Regions from separate parts of the Homo sapiens genome. Here region 1 is linked to region 2. Evidence: fine-mapped expression QTL. A gene starts in region 2. The other region holds a variant in brackets. All regions are shown on one strand. Distances are between the middles of the regions. Region 1 overlaps ACAT1 (acetyl-CoA acetyltransferase 1). Region 2 holds the start of ACAT1 (acetyl-CoA acetyltransferase 1).

Region 1 (11,239 bases), 25 kb after region 2:
CAGTTCAGAGAGAATATAAATCTACCCAACTTAATGTCAGATTTCAATCCATTTATAAGATCCCTGAGTATTACTTTAAATTTGAGAAATTTATTAGAACTTTTTCCTGTGACAGTCAATACGGTATTTTAAATTGAAAAGGGATTTACTAGAAGGTTACCGGGAGTGCCTCCAAGAACTGAAGGATGAACAGTAGCAACCATTCAGCTCTGGGAACTTCAGGGATTGGAACTGGGTGTTCACTACTACTAAGACATGCTCTCTTGGCTTCTCACACCTGCAGGCTTTTGTGCTTTATTCTCTCAGCCTTTCTAAAGTTGCTGCCTCTACCTCTAGGGTCACATATATAGGGTTCTCAAAAAGGAGAGACTTTCTCACCAGTTCCAGCAGAATAAATCCACAATGAAGACTCATTAACTTGCTTTAGGTTACAATTCTATTCCAGGAATGATTACTGTGCTCTAGGTGACAGAATACTAGAGCTTATCTAGTGTAGGTCAGACAGCTGCCTCTGGGGTCAGGAGAGTGGGGTCTGTGATCATAGAAGGGAGTTGAGGAAGAAAAGGGGACATGGAGGTGTAGAAGATTTAAATTTTGTGGCTGGGTGCAGTGGCTCACACCTGTAATCCCAACACTTTGGGAGGCCGAGGTGGGAGGATTGCTTGAGCCCAGGAGTTTGAGACCAGCCTGGGCAACGAAGTGAGACTTGGCCTCCACACAAAAAAATTAAAAATTAGCTGGGTATAGCAGCACACGCCTGTAGTCCCAGCTACTAGGGAATCCAAGGCAGGAGGATCAATTGAGCCCAGGAGTCCGAGGCTGCAGTGAGCTAGGTTTGTAGCATTGCACTCTATTGGGAGACTGTGCAAGACCATTTCAAACAAACAAAATTAGCTGGCTGTGGTGGCTCCCACCTGTAGTCCCAGCTACTTGGGAGGCTGAGGTGGGAGGATCACATGGGCCTGGAGAGGATGAGGTAAACTGTGATCATGCCAGCCTAAGCAGGAGAGGGAAACCCTGCCTCAAAAAAAAAAAAAAAAAAAAAAAAAATTGTGAAGCTACTTTGTAAGTTTCTCTTTTTAAGATGGTAACATAATAGAGGTTATAGTTAACAGATTCTAGATGAGTGTTTACTTGGGATGGTTTAAGTGAAGCAGGGATACAAAGGGAGGCACAGACTACTAGGCATCTTGTACAACAGTTGCTTGCTGAATGACTACTTGTTTTGAGCGATTTTACTTAAAATATTTTTATTTTAGGTCAACCAGATGTAGTGGTGAAAGAAGATGAAGAATATAAACGTGTTGATTTTAGCAAAGTTCCAAAGCTGAAGACAGTTTTCCAGAAAGAAAATGGTTAGTGTTAAGAAATGAAGCATAAGAAAAAATTGAGCCAGTATACCATATCTAGTTCTTAGAATTGCCTAAGGATTTTGAAAAATTCTAGAAAACATCTAGATGTTATTTAACATTTTCAGTATATCAGGCTCATGTAAAATTGTTTTGGTAGTTTATACCTTCAATATATAAATCCCAGGGAAGATATGTATAACATGACTATAGAATTCAGTTTTTCATATGTAGCAGTCTATGATAGGGTCTTCATTGGCATTGAAAAAAACAGATTTATTGATATAATTTATATACCATAATAACATTCTTCTATTTAAAGTGGTTTGGTAGTTTTTAACATTCATTTATATTTATCTCCAGGTGATTCTAGATAAGAATAAATATCTGATTTGAAAAATATGTAGTGAGTACCTGCTATATATTGAATAAGGAAAGTTAGACCCTGGAGACAAAAATATTAACTGGTCCCTATGTTTCAAGAGTTGTAGACGAGCATTTATCCAGTGCCATCATGCATGTTTGTGATGTTTGAGAAAACTGTTTTATGTACACAAAAAGGCATTCTTACATTGTCTTGCAGTTAGCTGTGTACATGTTTCCTGAGGGCAGGAATTGTCTCCACCCATATTTGTAATTTCTTTAAACATTTAGCAGCCCAGGCAATAGGTATTTGTTGAATTGAACCAAATACATTTATTGTGAAGGAATGTTTTGACTTCAACCTCATTTTTGCTTTCAGGCACAGTAACAGCTGCCAATGCCAGTACACTGAATGATGGAGCAGCTGCTCTGGTTCTCATGACGGCAGATGCAGCGAAGAGGCTCAATGTTACACCACTGGCAAGAATAGTAGGTAAGGCCAGGCGAGGTGGCTCACACCTGTAATCCCAGCACTTTCGGAGGTTGAGGTGGGAGGATTGCTTGAGCCCCGGAGTTCGAAATCAGCCTGGGCAATATAGTGAGACTTCGTCTCTACAAAAAGTTAAAAAATTAGCTGAGCATGGTGGCATGTGCCTGTACTACCATCTACTCGGGAAGCTGAGGTGGGAGGATGCCTTGAGCCCAGGAGTTTGAGGTTGCAGTGAACTGAGATTGTACCACTGCACTCCAGCCTGGGTGACAGAGCGAGACCCTGTCTTAAAAAAAAATAAGGTTTCTAAACATCTATAAGCTCTTCATGAAATTGAGTTTACTTGTTAGATATAGCCAACTCCAATATTAAGTATTACTACCTAGGTTGTACTTGTGGCAGAATTTAATTGATACATATTTCAATTGAGATAGAAGCTCCTTTAATATTTTCATTATACTTTATATAAGATTAAGCTTTAAGGGCTGGGCACAGTGGTTCACGCCTGTAACCCCAGCATTTTGGGAGGATAAGGCAGGATTGCTTGAGGCCTGGAGTTTGAGACCAGCCTGGGCAACACAGTGAGACCCCACCTCTGAAAGAAAAAAATTAGCCAGGTGTGGTAGCATGCCTGTAGTCCCAGTTACGTAGGAGGCTAAGGCTGACGATCATTTGAGCCCAAGATGTCAAAGCTGCAGCCAGCCTAGGCAACAGAGCAAGATCTTGTCTCTTTTTCTTTTTTTTTAAATTAAGCTTTAAAAAACTTCCTGTCCTGTATGATAAATAGCAGAAAATAAAGTACATGCATTTTCCTACAGAGGCAGCTATGTAGGAAAAAAAGAATATGGGATTAGGAGTCCAGAAATACAAAATTTACATGTGTGGTGTTTTAGTATTTATTAACTCTGTGGCCTTGGGCAAGTTCTCAATGTCCTTAAGCCGATTTTTAGCTGCAGAAATCTGTCTTGCCTTCTTCCTAAGGACTTAACAGATGCTATTTTGTTACTTTATAAAAAGCCTTATAACTTCATTTTTTTTCTTAGCTTAGATCATGGTTTCTTAACCTCAGCACTATTGACTTTTGCACTAAGTAATTCTTTGTTGTAGGGACTGTTCTATGCATTGTAGATGTTTAGCAGAATCCTTAGTCTTTACCCAGTGGCATCTGAACTATTCTGACAACCAAAAACATCTCTAGGTGGTGCCAATGTTCCTAGAGGCAAATACCCCCAAACTCCCCCCCAATGAAAATCAGTGTCTTAGATTACTGGAGTAATTTTATAAAGTGTAGAATCCTAGAAAAGGAAGACATATATTTACATATATTAAAGGGGCTAGGAAATGTGCATTTAATGGGCTAAACTTGGCTTGTGCATATTCTATACAGTAAAAAAAAAAAGATTTTAACAACCCCCCCCCCCCTTTTTTTAAACAGCATTTGCTGACGCTGCTGTAGAACCTATTGATTTTCCAATTGCTCCTGTATATGCTGCATCTATGGTGAGAACAAAGTGAGGGGCGATACTCCATTATGCTAGCTTCTGGTTTGCTTATACCAAGGTTGCAGTTTTTAAGATTTTAAATGTTATCTGCCAAAGCAGAGAGATAGCTTGGTTTCAAATCTTCCCATGTCTTCTCCTGAAAAGAGTAAGAGCAACAAGGATAACAAACAAAAAAAAAAAAATAAAGAACAGCTCACAAACTACATCTTCAGTAGAACAGGTAAAACTACACATCTGAATTACTTGTAAGTATCATACAGAACTCACACACCTGGTGTGGTAACCACAAAGCGGAGGGAATGCTGGCTGATGGTTCCAGATCTAGAATGGAAAGCAACTAGTCACTCCCCAGGAGAGGACTCCATTCTGAAAGGGAACAGCTGGCAGCAGGTCTTCAGAGTAAATAGTAAAACTAGAGACAGAAAACCTACATATTCCAAATTGTCAGTAAGGGCTATCCAAGTCTCAGTGGGAAATTGCTAAGCAGTCACAGGAAAAGAAAGTTTTAGGGGTTCAGGGTTCTTAGAAATCTTAAGTAAATATTTCCTTTTGAGAGGGCCTCACCCTGACAGTAAACTTCTGTAAGCACCCAGATAAAAAAAATTGCAGAATTTTAGTAAAATCAGATTCTCCCCACTGCCCCCAACCCCCGCAATGAAAAAAAAAACTGCAGAATCAGTAGGAAACAAGAATAGAGAAGATCAGAAACAAGGGGCCAGTGGAGTGATGATCTGCTCAGAGCTAGCAGATCTCAGAAAATGAAAGGAACACGCAGCTTCTGAAAGTGAGTAACATCACGTTGGAAAGCAAGGGTAATAAACAATTCTGGATTCTGAAGGTAGAATAACTTCTGAGAGCTACAGACATAGCTATATATGGGTACCATATTTTGTTTTGTGTTGTTGGAACAGTGGAAGCTGTTTGAGCTGTATAGGCTAGAAAGCTACCCTTAGTCCACTAGTAGAAGAGAGGAAGATGGAGGAAGAGTTCCACGTTAATTTTATTATCGCTCACAACAATCAAATTTCTTCTGTAAAGAAAAAGGGCACTCACTAGTAATGTTTTAGGGCACTCACTAGTAATGTTTTAAAAAGTATTAGCATAGGGATAATCACTGGCACAAATACACCTTCCTGCATAGCTGAGGAACTACCAAAACAAAACAGATCATATAGTGTAAGATTTTAAATAAATGACTTACAATGAAACTGCAACAGATGTAAATATCTGTGGCCCA[G/T]ATAACCCTACAGTAACATTTATAAAGCAGAAACTGCAGGGGATGCATTAATATCACTAATATTAGAAACTAATATACCTCTTTCATTAACAGTCAAGAACATAGAAATGGCTGGGTGCAGTGGCGCTCGCCTGTAATCCCAGCGCTTTGGGAGGCAGATCGCTTGAGCCTGGGAGGTCAAGGCTGCAGTGGGCCATGACTGTGCCATTCCACTTCAGCCTGGGTGACAGAGCAAGACCCTGTCTCAAAATAAATCAACAACAACAAAAAAGAATATAGAACCAAGCAACACACAATCAGTAAAGCAGAGCTTAAGAATATATAAAGCATTATGTGCCCCTAAATAGAAAATGTACCTTTTCAAATATCTGTGGAAAGAAAATCAAATTTTCTGTCCCCTATGTCAAAACAGACATAATGCAAACAAAATTCTTTGATATAATGGAATAAGATGAGCAACTAAAAATCTGAAAATGGGCCGGGTGCGGTGGCTCACGCCTGTAATCCCAGCACTTTGGGAGGCTGAAGTGAGCAGATCACCTGAGGTCAGGAGTTTGAGACCAGCCTGGCCAAACATGGTGAAACCCTGTCTCTACTAAAAATACAAAAAATTAGCTGGGCATGGTGGTGGGCATCTGTAATCCCAGCTACTCAGGAGGCTGAGACAGGAGAACTGCTTGAACCTGGGAGGCAGAGGTTATAGTGAGCCAAGATGGCGCCATTGCACTCCAGCCTGGGAGACAGAGCAAGACTGTTGGAAAAAAAAAAAATCTGAAAATAGAGATCCTTCCATCTGAAACCAAGAACTTCCATATTTAAATAACTTATGTCAAACTGTAGTATTTCAAGGAAATGATGACAGTAAGTTGTGATTGCTAATTATTTGAACATCATCTGTCTTTTAAAAAATTTAAGGTTCTTAAAGATGTGGGATTGAAAAAAGAAGATATTGCAATGTGGGAAGTAAATGAAGCCTTTAGTCTGGTTGTACTAGCAAACATTAAAATGTTGGAGATTGATCCCCAAAAAGTGAATATCAATGGAGGAGCTGTTTCTCTGGGACATCCAATTGGGTAGGTAAAAATAATAACTATATCTAGGTTAAGAGCTGCCTTTGTGTTTCTAGCTAAACTTAAAACTGCTTCATAATTCCCATTGCTCTTAAGTTTTCCTTCCTACCCATCTTTCATAAGGCAAAAACCATTTCTGATAGATGGTATCCAATACTGAACAGAGACCTGTCACATCTGTTATTTGAAACCTAATAATGTTTTATGCTGAAGAAGAAAAAGTGTACATTTAGACTTTTTACCCCCTTTTTCTCCTTCCTATTTATTTCATTAGCTTTAGGGTACCGTGGGTTTTGGTTACATGGATGAATTTATAGTGGTGGGGGCTGATTTCAGTGCACCTGTCAGTCACCCAATATGTAGTTTATCCCACATCCCTCTTCCATTATACTCTACTCTTCTATCCATTATACTGTTCTGTACTTTTAAAAGATCTGTGACCTGGCCAGGCACGGTGGCTCACGCCTGTAATCCTAGCACTTTGGGAGGCTGAGGTGAACAGATCACGAGGTCAAGAGATAGAGGCCATCCTGGCCAACATGGCGAAACCCTGTCTCTACTAAAAATACGAAAATTAGCTGGGTGTGGTGGTGCACGCCTGTAGTCCCAGCTACTTGGGAGGCTGAGGCAGGAGAATCGCTTGAACCCAGGAGGTGGATGTTGCAGTGAGCTGAGATTCTGCCATTGCACTCCAGCCTGGCGACAGAGCGAGACTCCATCTCAAAAAATGATCTAAGATCTGTGACCCTTCCTGAAACAAGTCCTCCAAGTTTTAGTTTTAGAATAGTAGTAGTTAATTCAGCAAGTAGTAGTGGCTAGTAAGGTTTTCAAGAAGTTAAATTGGAATAGAAACATTTTGGTTAGTCATAAATTCTGTACTTCATTAAAGAAGTAAATGCTTTCTTAATTTTAGGATGTCTGGAGCCAGGATTGTTGGTCATTTGACTCATGCCTTGAAGCAAGGAGAATACGGTCTTGCCAGTATTTGCAATGGAGGAGGAGGTGCTTCTGCCATGCTAATTCAGAAGCTGTAGACAACCTCTGCTATTTAAGGAGACAACCCTATGTGACCAGAAGGCCTGCTGTAATCAGTGTGACTACTGTGGGTCAGCTTATATTCAGATAAGCTGTTTCATTTTTTATTATTTTCTATGTTAACTTTTAAAAATCAAAATGATGAAATCCCAAAACATTTTGAAATTAAAAATAAATTTCTTCTTCTGCTTTTTTCTTGGTAACCTTGAAAAGTTTGATACATTTTTGCATTCTGAGTCTATACTTATCGAAATATGGTAGAAATACCAATGTGTAATATTAGTGACTTACATAAGTAGCTAGAAGTTTCCATTTGTGAGAACACATTTATATTTTTGAGGATTGTTAAAGGTCAAGTGAATGCTCTTTATAGGTAATTTACATTTAGTAAATTACGGTAAATTAAATTACTTCTCTTTACAGTAAGAGTTGGCTATTCTGGACAAACTAGCAGTGCTTCATATAATCACTCAAACCACAGTGTGTGCAGCAGTACTAGAAACAAGACAGAAGCCCATGTCCTCAGGGTCTAGAGTGGGGGCAATTTCTTATAACCTCAACATTCAGGGTTGGGGGAGGTCAAGCAGAAAACCCTGGAGTTTGGGCTCTGAATTACTATAGCAGCATAGAGAGTGGGAAGGGAGGTAGAAACTGATATGCTGAATGGATATATAAAAAAGGGAACAGATCACCACTTCCAATACACGACAATGCCTGTTCTTAAGCAGGACAGACTGTAACAGAAGTATCTCGCATTGCATTTTATCTGGGAAAAAATTAATTAATTAAAACGCTACAGGCAGGGGCTATGCACACTACCCTCAATTGCAGCTCTGAAGAGGGAAAACTCCCCCTCAGGAAGAGGAGGGGGCAGTAAAGGTCATTGTGTACACATTATCTGTTGGCAAATAATGTATTGTAGATCTTTTGAAGGAGCAAAATGACAATATATGGGAGAAATAGATTAGATTGCTCTTCAGATTCAGAGGAAGAGTAGAGTATTTTCAAAAACATCTGTAATCATCACCAACTTTTGAGGCTTGTTATGTGCTTTATATGTATAAACTCATTTAATTGTCACAAAAACTTCTAAGAGTGGGTACCATTATTATCCCTCCTTTATAAACAAGGAAATTGAGGCATAGAGTAGCTAAATAAATTCCAAGGGCAAAAAGCTGGCTAGGATTCAACTCCAAGTTAGTCAAGCTCCAGAGCCCACGTTCTTAACTTACTATGCTTTAGTTAAATGCCTTTCAATAATTATCTGCCCCGACTTACAAAAACTTCTAACTGAACCAGGAGCTGGATAAGATATAGGAGAAAAGGAAACCCAAAACATGAGAATACTTCATTGAAGATAAGCAGAAACTAACATTGCATCCAAAGGTCATTGATCTGGAAAACATCTGAGAAGTGCTCTGACAATTCTGGGAAAAAATGGAAAAGAGAGAAGAAACAGAGAATCAAGTAAGTAGGTTTTTTAATTTGTTTTAAAGAGATAAGGTATTGCTCTGTCGCCTGGGCTGGAGTGCAGTGGCATGACCATAGCTCACTGTAACCTTGAACTCCTGGGTTCTCAAGTGATCTGCCTCCCTCAGCCTCCTGAGTAGTTAGGACTATAGGCACATGCTACCATGCACAGCTTAAATGGTGTTTCCTAAAAAAAAAAAAAAAGATACTCTGAAGCAATAATTTAATATAACAGAAAACATAAAGATAATAGAAAAACTCAGATTTTTAAGTCCTAAGGGGGAAGATTTTAAAGAGCATTTTTTTTTTTTCTTTTTTGAGACAGAGTTTTGCTTCGTAGCTCAGGCTGGAATGCAGTGGCACGATCTTGGCTCACTGCAACCTCCGCTCCCTGGGTTCAAGCGATTCTCGTGCCTCAGCCTCCTGAGTATACAGGCATGCGCCACCAAACCTAGCTATTTTATTTTCAGTAGAGAGAAGAGTTTTGCCATGTAGGCCTGGCTGGTCTCGAACTCCTGACTTCAGGTGATCCTTCTGCCTCGGCCTCCCGAAGTGCTGGGATTATAGGCATGAGCCACCACGCCCAGCCCTAAAGAGCATATTTTATTGGCAAAATTAATTAGCAGAAAATCATACTAAGACATTCTGGAGAAAATGTATTAAATTCCTCTAACATCTAGTTAGAAAAATAGGTAGCCACAGTTCTTATTTCTATTACATTCAATCCAAGAAAACAAGTGACAGGACATCTAACTGTTTTTAATGAAACAAAATAAGATACTAAAAGGTGTGTCTCAAACACAGAAAAGTTTAGAAAATAAAGTACTCTGATGTTTCCTCCAAAAATGACAAAGGTTTAGGCAAGCCCATGGAATGAAGAATTAAGAATTCAGTTAGGTGAAAGTTTCTAATTTTTTAAATGACTGCTTAAGGACTGGCTGGGGAAGAAGGAAAGGTAGTGGTTGAAGGAAATAAAAATGTTTTACCTCAAATTATATTTATTTGACATATTTTGAGATGGCTATCAGAGGGCCAGCAAACAGAAGTGGTGCTGCAAAGCTGTCTTTTTTGAAAGAAATCTGCGTCTATGGAGAATCTCCATTAATGCAGCCAGGACTTCCCTTGTCTGGAATCTAGAAAAGGTTAAATGAGAGCCTGTCTGACACCTTTAAAGGTCTTAAACATTTAACATCCATTCTCTCAGAAAGCTTCTAACAAGACCACCTTTCCTAGCCAGGTCTCCTTTCCCTACCCGTAACCTGTGTTGCCACTAAAACCTGATTTACCAAAATAACATGTTTTTGGCCATGCTGGGAGCTCACATTACTTCTGTAACCTGAAGATGGTATAAAGTTCCTACACCTGGCCGGACACAGGGGCTCATGTCTGTAATCCTGGCACTTTTGAGAGGCCCAGATGGGCAGCTCACCTGAGGTAAGAAGTTCGACAGCAGTCTGGCCAACATGGTGAAACCCTGTCTCTACTATAAATACAAAAATTAGCCGGTCGTGGTGGCGCATGCCTGTAGTCCCTGCAACTCAGGAGGCTGAGGTGGAAGAATCGCTTCAACCCAGGAGGCAGAGGTTGCAGTGAGCCAAGATCACACCATTGGACTCTAGCCTGGGCAACAGAGTGAGACTGTCTCAAAAAAAAAAAAAAAAAAAAGTTTCTACACCCCACTGGGGGCGGGGTCAGGTCTTTGTCTGAAGGCCCCCATGTATACAACATTAAATAAATGTATATTCCTTTTCTCCAATTAATCTGCCTTTTGCAAACAGCTTTATTTTCCAGCAAACCTTCAGAGGGCCAAGGGGAACTTCAAGGTTACAGTGAAATGATCCTGCCACTGTACTGGGGGACAGAGGGAGACCTTGTCTCTTAAACAAAGAAAAGAAATACCATTTACTTTCTGGTTCTCTATTTTTTCTCTTCCTTTCCATTTTTTCCCCAGAATTTTCAGAGCACTTTTCAAATGTTTTCCAGATCACCAACCTTTGGATGCACTACTTACCTTCAGTGAAGTATTCTAAAATATGTTGAGTTTCCTTTTTTCCTTGTATTTTCCTTTTTTTTCTTGTGTTTTACACCTACCTCCTGGTTTCCCTTGGCCTTTACATGGTGAAATATCGGTAACATGTTATCTTTATCTGCTAAATAAAGGTAAACGCTAGTAGGACAAGTTCTGAGACTGCCCTCACGGGACTTACAAGAATTGCATGCTGGGTCCTGGACAGAAATATAGTTATAACTAGGCACTAAACAGGCTGCACCTTGGCCCACTTCCTAAACCCTCGGGGAGAGATTTGAAGTTTCCTCCAGTCTCCTCATTCGGTGGCCCTGCAATTAAACATCTTTCTTTGCTGCAGCCCAGGGTCTTACATACTGACTTGTCATGCACAATGGGCAATGGACCTGTTATGGTTACAGTTCCATATCTTAAGTTACTATAAGACAACAGCTTTAAAATCCAATAATAAAGTAAAAAGAGGCTGGGCGAGGTGGCTCACGCCTGTAATCCCAGCATTTTTGGAGGCCGAGGCAGGTGGATCATCTGAGGTCAGGAGTTCGAAGACCAGCTTGGCCAACATGGAGAAAACCCGTCTCTACTAAAAGTACAAAATTAGCCGGGCGTGGTCGTGCATACCCGTAATCCCAGCTACGTGGGAGGCTGAGGCAGGAGAATCGTTTGGGCCAGGGAGGTGGAGGTTGTGGTGAGCTGAGAT
Region 2 (11,991 bases):
TTAAAGGGGTCACTGTCTCACACAGGTTTTAACACAAAAGGGAAAACTACATTCATTTTCAAGGCCTTAATGACCCTTTGACTCGATCCAGCCTCTGGGCCCAGGGGGTGCAGTTGGCCTGGGCCTCTGGACCTATAGCTTCGTCCTCTCTGGCCTCTGTATCCATGGCTCTGCCCTGGGAGTCAGTCATTTTCCCTTCAATTTGTTCTGTCTCTGTCCCTTTCTATCCAGGCTGGGAGTATTTCTGCTGGTATAAAATTCTCAAAAATCTTGTCAGTTTTCTGTTGATGTCACGGGGATGCACACCATTAGAACTCTCAAGTTCTCCACGGATCTTTCCTGGATAACCCCAACTCTATTCCTGGCTTCGCTGACACGGTTGAGTGGATCCATGAGTCACACAACTCTCTTTAGCAAATTATTGTCCAGACACACTCTTCAGGCCAGAACTTCTCCTCCTTGGCAGTATAGTTAGGCTGAGAATTTTCCAAATCATCAAGTCCTGGTTCCTTTTTGCTTAACAATTCTGAGGCAGGAGAATAGGGAATTCAGGCCATCAAGGGTTAAGGCAGAAACAAAAGAACAGCAGGTGCAGCCAGGTCTAGGCAAAACTGGGCAGCACACAGGCCACATCCTTGCTCCTGTGATAATGAGACAGAAGTTTCCACATCAGCCTCTGATTGTGTGCCAAGCCTCCACGTCAGCCTCTGGTCACAGGCCAATCCTTCATGGGCTGTGGCCAATTGGAGTCCTCTAAAGGGCACTGAGGGGAGTTGCTTGGTTCCTTTAGCTTAATAAAAACCCCAGTTGAAGAGGCTCTTGAACCACTTGCTCAAGCCTGCTCCCACCCTGTGAATTGTACTTCGGCTTCTTCAATAAATCTGTGCCTTCATTAGCCCGTTCTTTTGTTGCTTTGTTAGTGCGTTTTGTTCAATTTTTTGTTCAATACACCAAGAACTTGGACAACTCACAGTTAAGACATTCCATCCAGTAACAATTCCTACCTCAATTTACCTCCTTCCACTTGCATTTTAATGTAAGCAGGCTGTTTTCCAACTCCTGGCTTCAAGTCATCCTCCTGCCTTGGCCTCCCAAAGTGCTGGGATTACAGGTATGAGCCACCATGCCTGGCCCCGGCTAATTTTTAAATTTTTTTCATAGAGATGGGGGTCTCACTGTGTTGCCCAAGCTGGTATCAAACCCTTGGCCTCAAGTCATCCTCCTGCCTTGGCCTCCTAAAGTGCTGGGATTACAGGCCTGAGCCACCACACCTGGCCCCTAAGAGATATATTAGAGTCTTAACTCGAAGTACCTATGAATGTGACTATTTGGAAATAGAGAACTTGCAGGTGTAATCAAATTAAGATGAGGTCATAATTGGATTTGGATGGGCCCTAAATCCAATGACCAGTGTCCTTATAGCAAGAGTGGAGAAAAAGCCACACACAGGGGAGAAGACAGGGGTTGGACTGATGCCTCTACAAAGCCAGGAATACCAAGGATTTCCAACAACCACCACGATCTTGGAGAGAGGCATGGAACAGACTCTCCGTTAGAACCCACAGAAAGAACCAATCCTGCCAACACCTGGATCTTGGACTCCAGCCTCCAGAACTGTAAGAAAATACATTTCTTTTGTTTTAAGCCACCCAGTTGGTGGTAATTTGCTGCTGCAATCTTAGGAAACAAATACAGATTTTGGTACTGAAAAGTGGGGTGCTGCCATATTAATATACACAAACATGGAAGTGCCTTTATTAATAGATTGGGGTGATGGGCAGAGGAAGAAGTTTGAGGCACATGATAGACTAAGCCTAGATTGCCTTGAAGAGAAAGTGGGTGGAAATGTGAGTGCCCCATCTCTACAAAAAATAAAAATTAGGTGGGCATGGTGACACACGTGTAGTCTTAGCTACTTGGAAGGCTGAGGCAGGAGGATTACTTGAGCTTAGGAGGCTGCAGTGAGTTATGATCGCACCACTGCACTCCAGCCTGGGTGACAGAGCAAGGCTCTGTCTCTCTCTTTTTTTTTTTTTTTGGAGACAGAGTTTTGCTCTGTCGCCCAGGCTGGAGTACAGTGGCACGATCTCGACTCACTGCAACCTCCACCTCCTGGGTTCAAGCGATTCTCTTGCCTCAGCCTCCTGAGTAGCTGGGCTTACAGAAGCCCATCACCACACCCAGCTAATTTTTTGTATTTTTACTAGAGACAGGGTTTCACCATGTTAGCCGGGCTGGTCTGGAACTCCTGACCTCAGGTGATCTGCCCTCCTTGGCCTCCCAAAGTGCTAGAATTACAGGCATGAGCCACCACACCTGGCCAGAGACCCTGTCCCTTAAACAAACATATCTTTTGGAAGGACACTGTTTAACGTAGTACAACGAGTTATTCCAGTAGTCTAAGTTTGACAGAAGTTGTTCGTTGTAGAAGAACTTACTTGGAAATGAATATCAAACATCTTTGTATTATAAATATAATACCCACAAGTTTTTCTTAAATGTTTTTAATTTTCCACTAGTTTCCTGCTGTGAAAATATTGCTCTAATATTCCTAAAACTAACTTCTACTTCTAGAAAGCCACTCTGGGTCTCATGGACATTTCAGAGGGCTTTATTTTATCAATATTTTAATAATACTTTGCAAGACCTAAGTCTCCACTTACAAGTTTGCCACTAGATGGAGGTATTGACTAGATCTCCTTGACAAATGTAATAAATCCCAGATAAACCACTTTTTGAGTAGCTCTTCATTAATACATCTGTCCAGACACTATTGCCTGCTATGACAGGAATGATAATCCAAAGCCACAAATTCAGATATGCAAAAAATGTTTTTAAATTTTTTCTTTGGCCAGGTGTGGTGGCTCACACCTGTAATCCCAGCACTTTGGGAGACTGAGGGAGGATTGCTTGGGCCCAGGAGTTGGAGACCAGCCTGGGCAACATAGTGAGAACCTGTGTCTACCAAAATACTAGTACTAATAATAATAAATTTTAAAATACAAACAAAAATAATTCTCTCTTAATTGTATTTAATTTTCATTCCAACACTCCATTTCTATTTCACAGAAGAAATGTTAATCTAGTCACTTTCTTTTTTTTTTTTGAGACGGAGTCTCGCTCTGTCACCCAGGCTGTAGTGCAGTGACACGATCTTGGCTCACTGCAAGCTCCGCTTCCTGGGTTCACGCCACTGTCCTACCTCAGCCTCCCAGGTAGCTGGGACTACAGGTGGCCCCCTCCATGCCCAGCTAATTTTTTGTATTTTTAGTAGAGACAGGGTTTCACCGTGTTAGGATGGTCTCGATCTCCTGACCTTGTGATCCGCCTGCCTTGGCCTCCTAAAGTGCTGGGATTACAGGCGTGAGCCACCGCGCCCGGCCAAGTCCTAGATTCTTAAATGAAATTATTAGCTACATTTTTGCCTGGTGCTCATATTGGTGATAAAGCTACTCTTATTTTTTTGAAGTTTAGTTTTAAAGAGCAGCTTGCCTGCTGTAGCTCCAGAAATAAATGTACTATTCTTCTCCCCTCAATGCTCCTAAATGTCTCTGAACTTCTCTAGAAGCTGTCCTGATGAACATAGTGGCACTTTTTCCTGGTAGTGCCTCTGATGGCAGAATTGTCCAATTACAGCTGACTTCTATGTTCCTAGTTAGGTTTCTCCTAGGGCAGGTGTCTCCTAAGACACAACTAGTGTAGTGAGTGCCTAGAAGCCTAGACCTAGCAACCAGACTGCCTAGATTCCAATTGCAACTGTGTCACTAACTACTAGCTTTGTGCCCTTGGACAAACTTCTGGAAAATGTGGATAATGCTACTCCCTAATTCAGTGGATTTTTGGGAGAATTAAAATTAAACTGTAAAAGAACTGGTTCATATTAAGAACTATGTACATAGCTATGTAACCAGTCTTTTTTTTTTTCTTCTTTTTTTGAGACACAGTCTCATTCTGTTGCCCAGGCTGGAGTGCAGTGGTGTGATCTCAGTTCACTGCAACCTCCACCTCCCAGGTTTAAGCAATTCTCCTGCCTCAGCCTCCTGAGTAGCTGGGATCACAGGTGCCCACTACCATGCCCAGCTAATTTTTGTATTTTTAGTAGAGATGGGGTTTTGCTATGTTGGCCAGGCTGCTTTTAACTCCTGACTTCAAATGATCCACTCACCTGGGCCTCCCAAAGTGCTGTGATTACAGGCGTGAGCGACCACGCCCAGCCTAACCAGTCATCTTTTACTGTGTGATACCCTAGTCATCAGCTTTGGCCTCTCACAACTGGTAATCTCTATGAGGCCAGACCTTTAGTTTTCTGAGTCATTTCTTTAACAATTCAACTTTTTCAGTTAGAAATATCTGTTTCTCTCTCTCTCTCTCTCTCTCACACACACACACACACAAAGTTTAAACACTGACATACAATGTAATGACTTCCTTTCAATAATTCTCGAAGCAGCCCAGTATGAAAAATATTTGTCTTTGGCCTCTGGTAGAAGGGAAAGGTGTGAGTGTGACATTCCAAGGAAGGAGGTAGGCCTTGGTGAGCTGTTGAATAGAGAGGTTCTTCGGTGCAGGAATCACAGGGGACTTTAAGGGACAAACCTGGAGTGATGGGGAAATTAAAGACAGGGTGCTATATTAAAAAATTACCCTGGCCGCGTGCAGTGGCTCACGCCTGTAATCCCAGTACTTTGGGAGGCCTAGTGGGGGCGGATTGCGTGAGCTCAGGAGTTTGAGACCAGCCTCTGGGCAACATGGTGAAAACCCGTCTCTACTAAAATACAAAAGATTAGCCAGGCTTGGCAGCGTGCGCCTGTAATCCCAGCTACTCGTGAGGCTGAGGCGAACTCAGGAGGCAGAGGTTGCAGTGAGTCAAGATCGCGCCTGGGTGACAAGTGCGAGACTGTCTCAAAAAAAAAAATTACCCCCAAACAGACCTATTTAGGTGGCTTATGCCTATAATATCTGTGCTTTGGGAGGCCAAGGCCAGAAGATCTCTTAAGGCCAGGAGTTTGAGACCAGCCTGGGCAACATAGCAAGACCCCTTCTCTATATAAAATAAAAATTAAAAAAATTAGCATGGTGGAGCATGCCTGTAGTCCTAGCTACGTAGCTACTTGGGAAGCAGAGACAGGAGGATCCCCTAGCTACTTGGGAGGCAGAGACAGGAGGATCCCCTGAGACCAGGAGTTTGAGGCTGCAGTGAGATATGATTGCACCACTGTACTCCAGACTGGGTGACAAGAGCGAGACCCTATCTTAAAAAAAAAAAATACTCCAAAACATAATGGCCTAAAATAACAACCATTTGTTTTCTCTCGTTTCTGTGGACCATGAATTCAGACAGCATGGTGGGTATGGCTTGTCTCTGCTCCATGATGTCTGGGGTCTCAGCTGGAGTGGTTGAAGGTTGGGGACTGGAATCACCTGAGGCCTTTTTACCCATATTTGTATCTGGACTGAGCCTGGAATTTGATTGCTTCAAAATATTTTCACGGCTGGGTGTGATGGCTCACGCCTGTAATCCCAGCACTTTGAGAGGCTGAGTCTGGCCGTCTGCTTGAGCCCAGGAGTCAGCAACCAGCCTAGGCAACATAGGGAGACCTAGTCTCTACAAAAAAAAAAAAATACAACAATTTGCTGGGCGTGGTCGCCTGCGCCTGTAATCCCAGCACTTTGGGAGGCCGAGGAGGGAGGCTCACTTGAGTCCAGGAGTTCAAGACCAGTCTGGCCAACATGGTGAAACCCCGTCTCCACAAAAAATACAAAAATTATCTGGTTGTGGAGGCTTTCGCCTGTAGTCTCAGCTACTGGGATGGCTGGGGAGGGAGGATCGCTTGAGCCCTGATGGTCGAGATTACAGTGAGCTGTGGTCACGTCACTGCACTCCAGCTTGGGTGACAGAGTGAGACCTTGTCTCAAAAAAAAAAAAAAAAATCCTAAAATATTTTCATGAGTTTGTGCTGGGTAGGCCTAAGGGAAACATGCTCAGTAAATCGAAAAATCTCGGATTACACATAAACCACCGGCCCCGGCAGGTTAGACTTGGTGGACACGGGAGCCAGCAGCGTGTCAGGTGCTCGTTGACCCCAGCGCCAGTGTCTCCATCCACGTCCTTCACTCGTCAACCTTTCCTGGCCCAGGCTGCGGTGTCCCAGCGCCAGGCTCCGCCCCGCCCTTGGCTGCCGGCCAATCGCCGCCGACTGAGAGGCGACTATTGGAGGAAGCGGGATGGGCGGTGCCCGCGCCGGGCCGCTAGGGGTGCGGGGTTGGGGAGGAGGCCGCTAGTCTACGCCTGTGGAGCCGATACTCAGCCCTCTGCGACCATGGCTGTGCTGGCGGCACTTCTGCGCAGCGGCGCCCGCAGCCGCAGCCCCCTGCTCCGGAGGCTGGTGCAGGTGAGCGGGGTTCGTCCCCACAGCACTCAGACCCGGGATGCGAGGAGTCCCCGCCTCGGAAGCTTCCAGCCCGCGGCCGTTGCGGCTCCCGCGGCCCGGGCGCGCGGCTTAGGCCCCAGGACAGTCACGCGACGGGTTCTGGTCCAAAAACCGCCTAAGTGCTCCGATAACACCCAGGGACTCGCCTATTTTTACAGCGCGTTTCTACTTCCAAGGTCTCGGCGTAATCATCTTAATGAGCGTTACTGGTGTGTCAAACAAGGGCACGTGTCTGGGCGGGCAGGACCGCCAGGATTGGCGCTGGCCCGGCCTGAGCGGTGGGATCGGGGAGAGTCTCTTTGCAGGCCTGTGCAGCTGCTCCCGAGATTTTCTTTAAAACATATTTGTGTGCGTTATTGTCAGGAGAGGTTCCTTTTCTTTTTTAATACAATAGATAATCATTGGGCATACAAGGGGAGAGGGCACCATGTGATCATAACAGATGTTTTTTGGAGCAGCCTGAAATTTATCAGGGAAAACAAATGACTACTCAGATAATACAATAAATTATACTTGACATATGAGCAAAGCTCACATACTGAGGGCGTTCCAAGGGCTGTCGCTCTTCTGACCGTTGTGTTTAGGGAACACAGCAGGGGCAGAGTCTCAAAGAATTTATTCTCCACATGCGTAAGCAAGGGAGTACGCACCACAGATTGTCAGGCAAAGCCTCAGGAATAGGTAGAGACCTTCAGGGTGTGGTTGGTGAAGCTTGAGTTTTCTAGGTCGATGGGGGCAATAAGCTTGGAGATCCAGTTATGTTGTGAGTATGGACTTGACCCTAGTTAAGTAGGGATTGTTGATATGTTTGTTTTTGTTGCAATGGTAGGTCACTCTAGTTCTTACGTCTGGGCGTAGAATAACATTACTTGCACAAGGGTGCTGGCGGTAGGAGCTTTGCAAGAGATTGTAAAAGAACCAGTCTAGGACTTGACAATTAGGGAGTGAGGGTGCGAAGCCAAGGGAAAAGAAAGAGTCTAAAATTGATCCTGGGTGACTGAGATAATAGAAAAGTCACAAGGCGTAGGTTTCCAGGGAAGATGAGTTTTTAGCCTATTTGTTAGTCTCATGGGATGAGTGAAGAAATCACAAGAAAGTAATTAGGTTATCTTGGGTTTCAGTCAGTATTGACTAGGTGACATAGGTGAACTAGGTACTCTAGAGATGTAAAAAAAAAAAGTTCAGAACCTTCTTAATTTATGGTTTAATTAAGATCTTACAATCAGGTTGGTTGAGGTGGCTTATGCCAGTAATCCCAGCACTTTGGGAGGCCGGGGTGGGTAGATCATTTGAGGTCAAGAGTTCAAGACCAGCCTGGCCAACGTGGTGAAGCCCCACCTCTATTAAAAATACACACACACACAAAAATTAGCTGGGTGTGGTGGCAGGCGCCTGTAATCCCAGCTACTTGGGAGGCTGAGGCAGGAGAATCGCTTGAACCCGGGAGGAGGGGAAGGTTGCAGTGAGCTGAGATCATGCCACTGCACTCCAGCCTGGGCAACAGAGTGAGACTCCGTCTTAAAAAAAAAGATCTTAAAATGAAACACAAATACTCCTCATGAAAAAAATAAGCCTGTACATGCTGTAATGTATGATATGTGACATTCATATTACTGAACTCTAGGAAGCAGTTGTATTGGACACTTGAATTAAATGGTCATTTACTGAACTATAAACAGGATTTCCAGTTTTCTGTGCTATTTTGTAGAATGGAATTTGACCTCTCATTACATTGGCTCTTTTCCCTTTGCTTACCAGGTCTCTTTTATGGTCAACAAATCTTTATGGACTTTATTGGAGCACATTGCCTTTCTAGCTCTAATCACTTTTCTCTCTCTGGTCAAAGGAGTGGTCTTTACTCATTACCTCCCATGTATTCTGCATCTATTTCTCCTTAACTCTCTGCAGTTAAATTTCTTTGCCACTGAAGCTGAAAAATACAGTGATTTCCTTTTTCTTTGTTTTTTAATTATTTTTTTAAATCTATTTTAATTTTAGTTTTTGTAGACACGGGGTCTGGTTCTGTTGGCCAGGCTGGTCTTGAACTCCTGGCCTGCCAAAGTGCTGGGATTACAGGTGTGAGCCATTGTGCTCAGCCCAAGTTTTTTCTTCTTGACCTTTATCCTATATTTGACACTATTGACCACTCCCTTCTTGAAACTGTTTTGTGTTTTGATCCAGTTTTATTCAGCTTCTTTTAATACTCAGACTTAAAAAAAAATTCCTGTATTGTGCCAGTCTTGGGCTTATTTGCTCCCAGATTCATTTATCTTCCCTCCCCTAGTCTGTCTGCATTACTGTAGGCTGACCAATATCAGCTGGCTTCTGGCTGGGTGTAGCCACTGGAAGGCACCAGTGGAAGATTGGAAGATAGGAGGAAGGGAGAAGCCAGAATAATTTGTCTGTCTGTCTGTATCTGGCAGTGTCTGTCTCTCTTGTGGTTCCCGCTTCTGCTGGGATCCTGACCCCTTGGCTTTGGTAACCTTGCTTCTTCCCTTTGACCTAACAGCCTGTATGCTACTTCCTTCCTGTTGCTAATTTCTTTCTTTCTTTTTTATTTTTTGAGATCAAGTTTCGCTCTTGTTGCCCAGGCTGGAGTGCAGTGGCACGATCTTGGCTTACTGCAACCTTGGCCTCCCGGGTTCAAGCAGTTCTCCTGCCTCAGCCTCCTGAGTAGCTGGGATTACAGGCATGTGCCACCACACCCGCTACTTTTTGTATTTTTAGTAGGGACGGGCTTTCACCATGTTGGTCAGGATGGGCTCGAACTCCTGACCAGCTCACCAGGTGATCCACCTCTGATGATCTGCCCACCACAGCCTCCTAAAGTGATTACAGGTGTGAGCCACCACACCTGGCCCCCTTCCCTTTTTCTAATCTTACCCTAGTACACTCAGTTCCCCCGCAGCCAGAGTGGTCTTTTTATAACATAAAAGCTTTCAGTGGCTTGTCATTGCCCATAGGCCAGAATCTAGACCCTTATGATCTGCTGGGCCCTACTTAGTTCTGTGGCCTCAGCTGCTGCCGTGCTCACTCTGCTTTTGCCACAGGACCCTTCTTTCTATACTTAGTATGTGTGCCAATTTTGTTCCGAATTCGTGGCCTTAGTCCTACGTGTTCCTGATGCCTCAAATGTTCTTTTCCTGGATCTTTCCAAGGATGACTCTTTAACATTCATTTCTCAGCTCCATTAACATTGCTAGAAGGCCTTTTTTGACTCTCCCATGTAAAGTAGGCCGTCAGTTACTCTCTAGTTCATGATCAATTTTGCTGGTTTCATAACATTTACTGTAGCTGAAATTTTGTTTCTCTGAGTTATTGGTAACTTTCAGACTGTCTTCAAATATTTGTTTTGTGTCTGCTGCCATCACTGGGATAGAAAATAAATAAAATCAGTCTCTTCTTGGAATTCACAGTCTAGTGAGGAGAAAAGCCACCTGAGGGTTACAAAATTATATATTCTGGAACAATTAGAATGTGCACGGGCGTTGTGGAAGCTGAGATAGGAGTGCTGACCTCTGCCTGGCATGGCTGAGCCCTCCCTGAAAGATAATTGTGTTATGTAGATAAAACTTAATGGGTTGTGTTCATTCAGCATGTATTATTATACACTATATGGTTCAGTGTCCTGACCATACTATAATTTTGTCATTCGTTTCTGATATTGAAGGAGCGCTAGGCACTGTGCTAAGTCATAGGGATGTAACAGTGAGCAAGAGACACCATCCCGCCATCAGGAAGCCTGTATTATGTTGGAGGGGTGGATAATAAAACAAAGATGTGAACCACATACTTACAGTGTAAGAGGTGCTTTGAAGGAAATAAAGATATTCATATAAAAGAGAGGAAAAAGTAGAGGGTAACTTTAAATAGAGTAGTTAGGGTGGACCACTCTGGGAATGTGTCATTAGAAAAGACATGAAGAATAGGCTGGGTGTGGTGGCTCACGCCTGTAATCCCAGCACTTTGGGAGGCTGAGGCGGGCAGATCACCAGGTCAGGAGATCGAGACTATCCTGGCTAACAAGGTGAAACCCTGTCTCTATAAAAATGCAGAAAATTAGCCAGGCGTGGTGGCGGGCGCTTGTAGTCCCAGCTACCTGGAAGGCTGAGGCAGGAGAATGGCGTGAACCTGGGAGGCGGAGCTTGCAGTGAGCCGAGATCGCGCCACTGCACTCCAGTCTGGGTGACAAAGTGAGACTCCGTCTAAAAAAAAAAAAAAAGAAAAGACATGAAGAATAAAAATGAGCCAGCCATGGAGAGCTGGGAAGACTTTTTGTTTTGTTTTGTTTTTGATTTTTTTGGAGACAGGATCACACTCTGTTGCACAGGCTAGAGGGCAGCGGCGCGATCTCGGCTCACTGAAACTTCTGCCTCCTGGATTCAAGCGATTCTCCCACCTCAACCTCCCAAGTAGCTGGGACTACAGGTGCCCACCCCCACACCTGGCTAATTTTTGTATTTTTAGTAGACACGGGGTTTCACCATGTTGGCCAGGCTGGTCTCAAACTTCTAATCTCAAGTGATCCACCTGCCTCGGCCTCCCAAAGGGCTGGGATTATAGGCATGAGCCACTAGGCCCGGCCTGAGGAGACTATTACTGGCAGAGGCACACTGCAGAGACCTTGAGGTATCGGGATAGGGTTTAGAACAAAGAGATGCCAGTGGCTGGCACAGAGCAAGAGTGATGTAAATTTGGAGAGAAAACCTAGAGCCAGATCATGCAGGTTCTTGGAGGATGAGGTAAAGAATTTGTATATAATTCCAAGAGCAATGAAAAGCTGTTAAATTATTTTAAGCAGTAGAGTGATATGATCTGATTTACATTTTTCAAAGCTGGAGGGACTGTAGAGAGGTGTCAGGGGAGGCAGGGAACTAGGTAGAAGGCCATTAATAGGAACAAGAGATGGTGGCTTGGACTAGGTGGCAGCAGTAGACATGAGGCAGAGTGGACGAATTTAGTTATGTTTTGGACGCTGTTCACAGTATCTGGATTTTAGGGATTGCAATAAAGGGAAGGATGAAGGATGATTTTGGCTTGAGCACCTGAGAATACCGGCAACAAACAGGTTTTCTTTTTTTTTTTTTTTTTTTTGAGATGGAGTCTTCTCTGTCACCCAGGCTGGAGTGCAATGGCGCAATCTCAGCTCACTGCAACCTCCACCTCCCGGGTTTAAGCAGTTCTCTTGCCTTAGCCTCTGGAGTAGCTGGGATTACAGGCGCGTGCCACCATGCCCTGTTATTTTTTTATTTTATTTTATTTTTATTTTTTTGTATTTTTGGTAGAGACGGGGTTTCAGCATGTTGGCCAGGCTGGTCTGGAACTCCTGACCTCGTGATCCGCCCCCCTCGGCCTCCCAAACTGCTGGGATTACAGGGGTGAGCCACTGCACCTGGCCACAAACAGGTTTTCTAGGGTTGGAAATTGAGAGCTATGATTTGGACATTCACCTGCAGCTGTCAGGTTGGCGCTTGGGTGTGAGTCTGGTGGTCAGTTGAAAGGTCAGGGTTGGAGATAGAAATTTGGAAAATCATCAGCACATAGAAGCCTTTTTTTTTTT

What was found. PIP is the estimated chance that this variant, and not a neighbour inherited with it, causes the effect.
Region 1: its variant is the best candidate, but not a certain one, in a credible set for the expression of ACAT1 in whole blood (TOPMed, PIP 0.64).

The regions. Positions count from the first base shown.
Region 1 is chr11:108,140,346-108,151,584 of GRCh38, forward strand. It overlaps ACAT1 (acetyl-CoA acetyltransferase 1), which reads left to right. Exons shown (of 12, transcript NM_000019.4): 8 at 1,260-1,355; 9 at 2,092-2,205; 10 at 3,638-3,702; 11 at 5,857-6,014; 12 at 6,925-7,258. The coding sequence ends at 7,045. Among named protein-coding and RNA genes, the nearest start is that of ACAT1, 24 kb to the left of the region's middle. RefSeq lists a silencer at 10,424-10,592. The variant G/T (reference allele first, on the strand shown) is at 4,942.
Region 2 is chr11:108,115,287-108,127,277 of GRCh38, forward strand. It overlaps ACAT1 (acetyl-CoA acetyltransferase 1), which reads left to right and starts at 6,281. Exons shown (of 12, transcript NM_000019.4): 1 at 6,281-6,392. The coding sequence starts at 6,321. RefSeq lists silencers at 5,943-6,481, 6,083-6,492 and enhancers at 8,718-8,837, 8,898-8,957.